Linked DNA regions of Homo sapiens. The protein of the gene in region 3 interacts with the protein of the main gene of each other region in a biochemical or structural test. Each region holds a gene or a part of one and is shown on either strand. Other genes may lie near its edges.

What was found.
Region 1: the proteins of PIN1 (region 3) and CHAMP1 form a complex in vitro, tested with the Homo sapiens proteins (one study listed by BioGRID).
Region 2: the proteins of PIN1 (region 3) and PLK1 form a complex in vitro, tested with the Homo sapiens proteins (3 studies listed by BioGRID, with this or other methods).

What each region holds. Positions count from the first base shown.
Region 1 is NC_000013.11:114,313,003-114,316,750, forward strand, and holds the start of CHAMP1 (chromosome alignment-maintaining phosphoprotein 1), read left to right. Parts: upstream 1-1,500; 5' UTR 1,501-1,641; intron 1,642-3,748. UniProt on the Homo sapiens protein: Required for proper alignment of chromosomes at metaphase and their accurate segregation during mitosis. Involved in the maintenance of spindle microtubules attachment to the kinetochore during sister chromatid biorientation.
Region 2 is NC_000016.10:23,681,772-23,685,419, forward strand, and holds part of PLK1 (serine/threonine-protein kinase PLK1), read left to right. Parts: intron 1-292; coding exon 293-386; intron 387-2,098; coding exon 2,099-2,318; intron 2,319-3,648. UniProt on the Homo sapiens protein: Serine/threonine-protein kinase that performs several important functions throughout M phase of the cell cycle, including the regulation of centrosome maturation and spindle assembly, the removal of cohesins from chromosome arms, the inactivation of anaphase-promoting complex/cyclosome (APC/C) inhibitors, and the regulation of mitotic exit and cytokinesis.
Region 3 is NC_000019.10:9,838,304-9,841,951, forward strand, and holds part of PIN1 (peptidyl-prolyl cis-trans isomerase NIMA-interacting 1), read left to right. Parts: intron 1-132; coding exon 133-345; intron 346-3,648. UniProt on the Homo sapiens protein: Peptidyl-prolyl cis/trans isomerase (PPIase) that binds to and isomerizes specific phosphorylated Ser/Thr-Pro (pSer/Thr-Pro) motifs.

The DNA.
Region 1 (3,748 bases), on a different chromosome or scaffold from region 3:
AAAATAGAAAACGATAGAGAAAATCAATGAAACCAAAAATTGGTTCTTTGAAAATGTCAAAGCATTATTCACAATATCTTGAATAGGGAAGCAAGCCAAGTGTCCATCAACAGGTGAGTGGATAAGCAAAATGTGGCATATCCATACAATGGGATAGTATTCAGTGTTAAAAAGGAAGGAAATTCCACAATGTGCTACAACATGGATGAACCTTGAGGATGTTCTGCTAAGTAAAATAAGTCAGTCACAAGACAAATACTGTATGATTCCACTCTTATGAGTAGTCAGACTCAGAGACACAGGAAGTAAGATGGTGACTGCCAGAAAGTAGAAGGTAGAGGGGAACCGAGAGTTAACATGTAATGCATAGTTTGTTTTTCAAGATGAAAGAGGTACAGAGATGGATGGTGGTGTTATGAATATACTTACCACCACTGAGCTGTACACGTAAAGATAGTTAAGACGGTAAATTCTATGGATTTTATTTTTATTTTTTTGAGACAGAGTCTCACTCTCTCCCCCAGGCTGGAGTGCAGTGGCGCGATCTCGCTGTAACCTCCGCCTCCCCGGTTCTATGGGATTCTCCTGCCTCAGCCTCCCTAGTAGCTGGGGTTACACGCGCCCGCCACCACGCCTGGCTAATATTGTATTTTTAGCAGAGACAAGGTTTCACCAGGTTGGACAGGCTGGTCTCGAACTCCTGACCTCAGATGATTCACCTGCCTAGGCCTCTCAAAGTGCTGGGATTACAAGCGTGAGCCACCGCGCCCGGCCATTCTATAGTTCATTTTCACCACAAAAACAAAAATGAAATTCACAACAAGCAAAACTTCAGAAGGGTACAAAGGTAGAGAGCAGTGTGAGCTAATTTTACAGTCTTTCAAAGCATACAGACTGATGGCATCAGCATTAGAGGTGCATGCATTTTAATTAGAATTGTGGTGGTAACATTCATAAAACTGAAAACAAAAAACGAAGAAGATAACTTCTGGGAATCGGGACTTTCAGTGGAGGCGGGGTGATGAGAAAAGGAATATTTACTGTCATCCAACAACTTTGTCTTGTACTTTTGTCATAGGTATTATGCCAGTAATATCCCTGAGAATGTATGGGGCAGGTCTAGCTCTTTTTTTCCTAATAAATTCATTCACACAACAATCAAAACAGCAAGAAAAGGAAGAGATATCCGCACGGCGGCGGCAGGCCGGGGCCGTTCCAAGGGCCTGGCCGGAGGCCACAGGCCAGACGCGGCGGAACCCTCCCGGAGCCGCGCCCGGGCGCGCGCGGGAAGCGGAGGCGGAGTGGGCACGTGCGGCACTTCCGGGGCGGGGCGGGCACGCAGCCCTTCCGAAGGCCCGCGCGAGCCGCTAGTTTTGCCCACGCACTTTTGGCACAGCCGCGCCACGCGATCGGCGATCTGATTGGCCCGCGCGGGAGGGCGCGCGGCGCCAAACTTGCTTCCCGTCAGCCCCCGCCCGTCCCGCGGGAGCGCGCACGCTCGCGCACCCGGATCCCGGCTCCTGCATCCAGTCGCCATTCGGGAGGCCGCTGCGCTGCAGGGCCTCGCGGAGCCGCCCGCGACCGCGAGCCGGGCCCTCCGCGCGGTCCATCGCCCACTGGACGCCGCCCGCGGCCGGACCGGTGAGGAGCGAGAGCGAGCGGGGGAGGGGCGTGGTTGGGGCCTGCATCCCCGAGCCCCGTGTCGGCCGCCGACCTGGCGGGGACGGTCCCGGGAAGCCGCGGGTCCGAGTGAAGGGGGCCTGCGCTGCCTCGCTTCCCACACGGCCCGAGGGAAGGGCCCGCCCCCACAGGCCGGGGCGGGAGTGCGTCTTTGTGCAGGGAGCGGGGAGGCCCGGTGTCAGTCGCTGCCGAGGCTGGAAACATTGCGTTTGAAACCATTGGGAAGTTGAGGGCGGCACAAGACGAAAGCCATTCTTTCTGTTTTAGTTCTAGACTGCCTCCTCTTCTGTCATTATTACTGTTTAAAAATCCGCTATACAGCCTCCAAAGTGGGAGAGGACATTTGTAAACCTGATAAAGAGTTAATGTCTAGAATACAAGAAGAGATGCAACTGACCAACAAAAAGCAACCCAGTTCAAGAATGGGCAAGGAATTTGAATAGATATTTCTCCAGAGAAGAGAGACAAATGGCCAATAAGCACGTGCAGTGATGCTCAACATCACTAACCATTAAGGAAATGCAGATGAAAACCACAATGAGATACCACCTCACACCTGTTAGGGTGGCTATTAAAAAAAAGGGAAATTATGAGTGTTGGGGATGTGGAGAAATTGAAGCTCGGGTGCATTGCTGGTGGGAAAGTAGGGTGGTGCAGCAGCTATGGAAATTGGTAGTCGTTCCTCAGTTCTAGGTTTATACCCCCAAAAATTGACAGCAGAGACTCAGATACTTGTTCACAAATGTTCATCGCAGCATTATTCAAAATCCAGATGTCTATCAACATGTGGATGAAAGGCAAGCTGTGGTATATACATATAATGAATGGACCATTGTTCATCTTTAGAAAGGAATGAAATTCTGATACATGCTGCAATATAAACGAACACATTATACAGTATAAACGAGCACATTGAACACATTATGTTGAGTGAAATAAGACACAAAAAAGACATACTGTATGATTCCCCCTCAGGCACAGAATTGAGATTACCAGCACTGAAAGTGGAGAGTGGAAGTTACTGTTTCATGGGTACAGAATTTCTGTTTGTGGTGAAGAAGTTCTGGAAGTGGATAGTGGTGATGTTTGCACAACGTTTTAGTACTAAACTAACTAAATTGTGCTTTTAAAAATGATTAAATGGCAAGTTTTGTTTTTTTTTTTTTTTTTGAGACGGGAGTTTCGCTCTCGTTGCCCAGGCTGGAGTGCAATGGCCCGACCTTGGCTCACTGCAACCTCCGCCCCCTGGGTTCAAGGGATTCTTTTGCCTCATTCTCCCAAGTAGCTGGCATTACAGGCGCTTGCCACCACACCTGGCTAATTTTGTATTTTTAGTAGAGATAGGGTTTCTCCATGTTGGTCAGGCTGGTTTCGAACTCCTGACCTCAGGTGATCCACCCGCCTCGGCCTTCCAAAGTGCTGAAATTACAGGCATGAACCACCATGTCCGGCCTAAATGGCAAGTTTTTTGTTTTTATTTTTGTTTTTGTTTTTTAATGAGCCAGAGTTTCACTTTTGTTGCCTGGGCTGGAGTGCAGTTATGCGATCTTGGCCCACTGCAGCCTCCGTCTCTCGGATTTAAGCGATTCTCCTGCCTCAGCCTCCCAAGTAGCTGGGATTACAGGCGCCTGCCACCACACCCGGCTAATTTTGTATTTTTAGTAGAGACGAGGTTTCTCCACGTTGGTTAGGCTGCTCTCTGACTTTCAACCTTAGGTGATCCGCCCACCTTGGCCTCCCAAAGTGCTGGGATTACAGGCGTGAGCCTGTGGTGGCGCGCGCCTGTAGTCCCAGCTACTGGGGAGGCTGAGGCAGGAGAATCGCTTGAACCTGGGAGGTGGAGATTGCAGTGAGCCGAGATTGCGCCATTACACTCCAGCCTGGGTGACAGAGCGAGACTCCCTCTCAAAAAAAAATAAATAAATAAAAATGACTCCTTGTGTAAACTATAGACTACTTAATAAATCAGTATTAGCTTATCATTGTAGCAGATATCTCACACTAATGCAAGATGTTAATACAGGTGAAGTATCCTTCATTCGAAATGCTTGGAACCAGAAGTGCTTTG
Region 2 (3,648 bases), on a different chromosome or scaffold from region 3:
AGGCAGCATCTGAGGCCCTTGCACAGAGTCCTAGATGACCACAGGCTATAGCTAAAAAATCACTGGCCCTTAAGAATCCTGGTCTCACCATGTGTATTCTGCTGAGGGCTTATTCTAGCCAATGTCATGGCTTCTGGGGCTGCTCAGTGGACTTAGGGATTGTCTTCAGGGGCCCCAGAGTTAGAGTGAGTGTCCAGAGGATGCCTGACCTTTGTTCTGACCCTGAGATGATTTCTCTCATGTCTGGGTTGTGGCTGGGAGACTGGTGCCAAATCCTACCTTGTGCTTACAGGTATACCTTGTTAGTGGGCAAACCACCTTTTGAGACTTCTTGCCTAAAAGAGACCTACCTCCGGATCAAGAAGAATGAATACAGTATTCCCAAGGTGACTAATGATGCTTTAAGTTTACATTTATTTTGTTTTCCCCAGAAGCTGTTTATGGAGCCCAGCAATATCCTAGGACCAGAAATAGGTCTATCCCACCTCTAAGGTAGCCACAGAGCTTGAGAGGGCCTGTGTCTGAAATTGCATACAGAACTTGACATGTATGTGCACATAAGCATTTTTTCTAGGGGGAGAGAGTTGGCAGATTCTCAAGAGATTGGGTAACCCAAAAGTTGTGTAAAAAGCAAAAAACAAAGGAGGTAGGAAGGAGTAGGAGGCAAAAGTGCTTAATCTTTAGAAATGGTTTATCTTAATTCAAATGGATTCTGCCACTTAGCGAGATCACATTGGGCAAATGGCCTGCATCTTTTTTTTTTTTTTTTTTATTTGAGGTGGAGTTTTGCTCTTGTTGCCCAGTGCAGTGGCATGATCTTGACTCACTGCAACCTCCACCTCCCAGGTTCAAGCGATTCTCCTGCCTCAGCCTCCCAAGTAGCTGGGATTACAGGCACCCACCACCTCGCCTGGCTTTTTTTTTTTTTTTTTGTATTTTTAGTAGAGACGGGGTTTCACCATGTTGGCCAGGCTGGTCTCGAACTCCTGACCTCAGGTGATCCACCCGCCTTGGCCTCCCAAAGTGCTGGGATTACAGGCGTGAGCCACCATACCCAGCCTGGCCTGCATCTTCTGAACCATAGTTTCCATATATAAAGTGGAGTTCCTGCCTTGGAGCACCTCACAGAGTGCCTTGCATGTGGTGAGTGCTCTCAGAATTATGAATCACTGTGAATCCCAGGGCTTCCTAATGGCATAGTTGTGTGCATTTTCTTTTTTTTTTTTTTTTTTTTTTTGAGATGGAGTCTCGCTCTGTCGCCCAGGCTGGAATGCAGTGGTACAATCTCGGCTCACTGCAAGCTCTGCCTCCCAGGTTCATGGCATTCTCCCGCCTCAGCCTCCTGAGTAGCTGGAACTACAGGCACCAGCCACCATGCCCGGCTTCTTTTTTCTGTATTTGTGGTAGAGACAGGGTTTGACCGTGTTAGCCAGGATGGTCTCGATCTCCTGACCTTGTGATCCACCTGCTTCGGACTCCCTAAGTGCTGAGATTACAGGCGTGAGCCACCGCGCCCGGCCATGGTGTGCATTTTCACAACCACCAACAGAAATACATTTAAAGGAATAGCTGGTTCCTGCAGAAGCCTAGCACACAGCCAGTTTGAAGTGTAGTGTCCTTGTGTGAAGCCAGGAGGCCTGTCACCATAAGGACAGACATAGTAAATCCATCACAAAGTGTCAGTTCACTGTCAGAGACAGCATGGAATCAAGCCAGCTAGACAAGGCCTTCACCCTCTCTGTGCCTCACTTTCCTCCTCTGTGAAAAAGGGATGATAATAGATCCCCACCCCTTAGATGAGTTGGTGAGGGCTAAGTGAGCTAAACACAGGAGTGCTTAGAATGCTTTCCTGGCACATAGTGAGTGCTAGGAAAGTGAGTTGGTGTTCGGCCACAGTCCATTGACCCTTCTGTCAATGGTGCTCAGTAAAGCTGACAGTGGAGAACTTGGCATTGAACCAAGTTGTGAACCACTGACCTGTGGTGTATTTGAGACTGGGGGCTGCATGTGGGCTGGGGACCTGCAGCTCCTTTGAGGCCGTACTGTACTCCAGGTCCCCTTCACATTCTGCTTATGGCTGTCCCTCTCTCTGCCCCAGCACATCAACCCCGTGGCCGCCTCCCTCATCCAGAAGATGCTTCAGACAGATCCCACTGCCCGCCCAACCATTAACGAGCTGCTTAATGACGAGTTCTTTACTTCTGGCTATATCCCTGCCCGTCTCCCCATCACCTGCCTGACCATTCCACCAAGGTTTTCGATTGCTCCCAGCAGCCTGGACCCCAGCAACCGGAAGCCCCTCACAGTCCTCAATAAAGGTACAACAAGGGTCTGGGTAAGAGAGCAGACCCCCCAGAGAAAGCCCAGGTTGTAGGGGTGTGTGCAGCTTAGTCCCTGGCCCTGAGAGCTCAGGTGTGGAGTAGGACAGGCCTCTGTCCTTCAATCCGTGGTTCCAATGCCCATCTGCTTCTCGGCCCTGCCAGGAAAGACTGACCTTACCATGGCTGGATAAACGTACCATGCCCAAGAAGAAGAAAATGGATTGAATGCCAAGCCTGAAAAATTCTTTCAAATCACTTTAATTAATTTAATTTTTTGGAGACAGGGTCTCTCCTCTATTTTCCAGGTTGGAGTGCAGAGGCACAATCACAGCTCACTGCAGCTTTCAACTCTAGGGCTCAATTGATCCTCCCATCTCAGCCTCCCAAGTAGCTGGGACTGTCAGGCATGCACCACCATGCCTGGCTGACTTTTCTAATTTTTGTAGAGACAGTGTTTTGCCATGTTGCCCAGGCTGGTCTTGGAACTCCTGGGCTCAAGCGATCCTTTCACCTCCACCAAAGTGTTGGGATGACAGGCATGAGCTGCTACATCTGGCCTTTAAAAAAATTTCTAACACTTTTTCATGATTCATTGAAAAACATAAAAATTTCCTTTTTTTTGTGGCGTGATCCCGGCTCACTGCAAGCTCTGCCTCCCGGGTTCACGCCGTTCTCCTGCCTCAGCCTCCTGAGTAGCTGGGACTACAGGCGCCCACCACCATGCCCGGCTGTTTTTTTGTATCTTTTAGTAGAGACGGGGTTTCACTGTGTTAGCCAGGATGGTCTCAATCTCCTGACCTCGTGATCCGCCTGCCTCGGCCTCCCAAAGGGCTGAGATTACAGGCGTGAACCACCAGGCCCGGCCTTTTTTTTTTTTTTTTTTTTTTTTTTTTTTTTTTTTTTTTTTGAGACAGGGTCTGGCTCTGTCTCCTAGGCTGGAGGGGAGTGGTATGATCTCGATTTCACTAAGGATACATAGTTTTAAAAAGTCACTTGAAATACTTTTTTTCTCTGTGGATATATCACCAATTTGATGTACAACTTCAGTTCATTTTTCAGTTTTCAATTTTTAGGTATTGGTTTTTCTTAAACTTCATTTTGGAATAATTTTAGGCTTATACAGAAAAGTTGCAACAACAACAAAAAACTCCCCAGAGTTCCTACATACCTTGCAGCAATTATTACAGTGGAATTTTTTTTGAGACAGGTCTCAGGACTTGCTGTCACCCAGGCTGGAATGCAGTGGCTCACTCATAGCTTACTGCAGCCCCAACATCCTGGGCTCAAACAGTCCCCCTGCCTTACCCTCCAGAGTAGCTAGGACTAC
Region 3 (3,648 bases):
TGGATACACCATGGATTTGTTGAATGAAGGCGCCCCCTGCAAGCCAGGCCCTCACCCTGGCTTCTGGCTGTGGGCCCAGGGGTGTCCTGGGAGCACAACCCTAGCTGAATTCCTGCCTGCCCTCCCCTCCAGGCCGAGTGTACTACTTCAACCACATCACTAACGCCAGCCAGTGGGAGCGGCCCAGCGGCAACAGCAGCAGTGGTGGCAAAAACGGGCAGGGGGAGCCTGCCAGGGTCCGCTGCTCGCACCTGCTGGTGAAGCACAGCCAGTCACGGCGGCCCTCGTCCTGGCGGCAGGAGAAGATCACCCGGACCAAGGAGGAGGCCCTGGAGCTGATCAACGGTGAGCAGGGCGAGGGCAGGGGCTTGGGAGGGGGTCTTCTCCCAGGTGAGCCTTTGTAGAAGTCACATCAGACCCTTCACCCCAGCTTGCTCAGCTGCCAGGCGTGGTGTTGGCCAACACAAAAACGCCAGTGCATGACCTGACCCTGACCTTCACAGCAGCCATTCTCTTTCTTTTCCATCTGGCATTTGAGGGTGAGCCAGGTAGGGGCAGAGGACCCAGCCTGGGGGCTGGCAGACATGGGTTCAGGTAGTAGCTGTGCCTCTGTGAACTCTGTGACCTTTGGGAGGGGACTCGTGTCACCTCCCCTAGACTCAGCTTTCTCTGTAAAATGGGCATCCTCTAAGGACCATTGTGAAGGTTCAAGGGAATAAGGCAATGGATTTTGCACAGTAGGCCCTCAGTCTGTGGGAAGTGTTGTCAATAGTAATATCATCCACTAGGGGCCTGAGTCATAAACATAGGTGGATCCAGAGAGAGCAGTCAGGAAGGTAGTGAGTGCATGCAGGGTGCGGTGGCTCACGCCTGTAATCCCAGCACTTTGGGAGGCCTTGGAGGGCAGATCACCTGAGGTCAGGAGTTCAAGATTAGCCTGGGCAGTATGGTGAAACTCCATCTCTACTAAAAATACAAAGATTAGCCAGATGTGTTGACGCATGCCTGTAATCCCAGCTACTCGGGAGGCTGAGGCAGGGAGGCAGAGGTTGCAGTGAGCCGAGATCGCACCACTCCACTCCAGCCTGGGCAGCAAAGTGAGGCACCATCTCAAAAAAAAAAAAAAAAAAGAGGTAGTGAGTGCCAGTAGATAGTGAGTTAATTCTGACCTAAGGGAGGAAGCTATTCCCTGCTCTGTTCTGTGTTTCCTCTGCAGTCTGGCACCAAGGTGGCAAACTTTAAAGGCCAGATGGTAAATATTTTAGGTTTTGTGGGCCATGCAGTCTCTATCAGCTCTGCTTTGTAACTGGATAGCACTCATAACTAATATGTAAGCAAGCACATGGTCATGGCTGTGTGCCAAGAAAACTTTACTATTTACAAAATCTGGGAGGATTTGGCCTGCAGGCCATCATTTGCAGAGCCCTGTCTAAAGCTGTCCAGTTTGGCTGCCACTCCCACCCTGTGCGGGAGGATCACTTGAGCCCAGGAGTTTGAGACCAGCTTGGGCAACATAGCAAAACCCCGTCTCTAAAAAAATAAAAAAATTAGCTGGACATGGTGGTGCACGCCTGTAGTGTCAGCTACTTAGAAGACTGAGGTGGGAGGATCCTTTGAGCCCAGGAGGCAGAGGTTGTAATGAGCCGAGATCACACTACCGCACTCCAGCCTGGGTGACAGAGCAAGACCCTGTCTCAAAAATAAATAAGATAATATCAAAAATTGGTTTCTCAATTGCACTGGTCATACTTTAGCTGGTGGCTGCCATCTTTGACAGCGGGAATATAAAACATTTACATTCTTGGCCGGGCGCGGTGGCTCACGTCTGTAATTCCAGCACTTTGGGAGGCCAAGGTGGGTGGATCACGAAGTCAGGAGATCGAGACCATCCTGGCTAACACGGTGAAACCCTGTCTTTACTGAAAATCCAAAAAAATTAGTCTGGCATGGTGGCGGGCACCTGTAGTCCCAGCTACTCGGGAGATAGGCAGGAGAATGGCATGAACCCGGGAGGTGGAGCTTGCAGTGAGCTGAGATCGTGCCACTGCACTCCAGCCTCGGCAACAGAGCGAGACTCCGTCTCAAAAAAACAAAAACAAAAACAAAAAAAAACACTTTTCCATTCTTGCAGTAAGTTGTGTCTGATGCCTTTCTCAGAGTCCCCAAACCTGGGCTGTCCCTACTCCAAACAACCCATCTCTCAACCATGCCCAGACAGCCTGGGTTGCTATGCAGCTCTGCCACGTCCTGGCTATGTGCTCTTGAGCAAGTTACTTAACATCTCTGGGCTTCAATCTTTTTCTCCTTCTTCTTTTGAGACAGGGTCTTGCTCTGTCACCCAGGCTGGAGTGCAGTGTTCATAGCTCACTGCAGCCTCAACCTCCTTGGGATCAGGTGATCCTCCCACCTCAGCCTCCCAAGTAGCTGGGACTGCAGGCTCATAACACCACACCTGGCTGATTTTTGTATTTTTAGTAGAGACAGGACTTCACCATGTTGCCTAGGATGGTCTCAAACTCCTGGCCTCAAGTGATCCTTCCACCTCAGCCTCCCGAAGTGTTGGGATGACAAGCATGAACCACCGCCCCCAGCTGTCAGTCTTTTTCATTTATAAAATTAGTATTAGAATAATAAGACCCACTTCACAGGGTAGTTGTGAGGACTCCTGGCTAATACAGTAAAGCGGGAGTAACAGCTCCTGGCATCGGTAAATGTTCTGTCATTGTTAGTGGTCACTGTCATTGCTGTTGTTGGTTGTGGTAGCACAGGGCCCAGCACAGAGTGTACACTCGGTCAGTATTGGCTGTTGTTTTACTCTCTCATCACTTGGTCCAGTTGGCCTGTAGGATGTTATTACATATGCACACCCCCAACATGGCATCTAGGACAGTAAGTGCCACCCGTTAGTCTTATATGTAAGCATGGCAGAGAGAAGCCGAGTTCTTGCACAGAATCTTGAAGGCTGATTGAAGAGCCAGCCTCCTGACCTCTGAGGGCAGGGACTGGATCTCTCTCTTTCCCCTGTATTCCCATCCTGCCACACAAAGCCTGGCCCAGAGTCAGCCCTCACAGCCTTGTTTCATGAGCCAGTAGGAAGCAAGAAGGATTCCTGGCACAGGACGGGGCAGAAGTAAAGGCCTAGGACTAGGATGTAGCCAGAACTCTGGGGAAGGCTTTGCAGGGAGCTAGGGGGTGATGAGACCCTTCACGGGCAGGTCCCAGCCAGGTTGAGGAGGGTCCTTGTCAGGTGAGGAGGTTTGGTTCTTTCCTGGAGGCAGCAGGACATATGTGGCCATGTGGGACCAGGAGAGGAACCCACAGTGCTCTGCTTTCAGCAGAGATCTGTGAAGCTAGAATGTCAAGGGCCAGGGAAGTGGAAGGCCCAGAACCTTCAGGGGTTCTGGTTGCCCCAGAGCAAGAAGAAGAAGTGGAGGGAGAAGCCAGGAGAGAATTGCAAGATGACCCTTCAGGTCCTCCCAGCTCTAGTGGTCTCTGTTCTGAGGCTTCCGGACCCTATAAGAGTGAGCAGGAGGGTGCAGGCATTTGGGGATGGAGCGGCATGAAGTGGGCTCCTGGGGGTCAGCAGAGCAGCCAGGCGCAGGACAGAGCTGCTCCAAGCAATCCTGATGAGAGCTGGCAGAAGGCTGA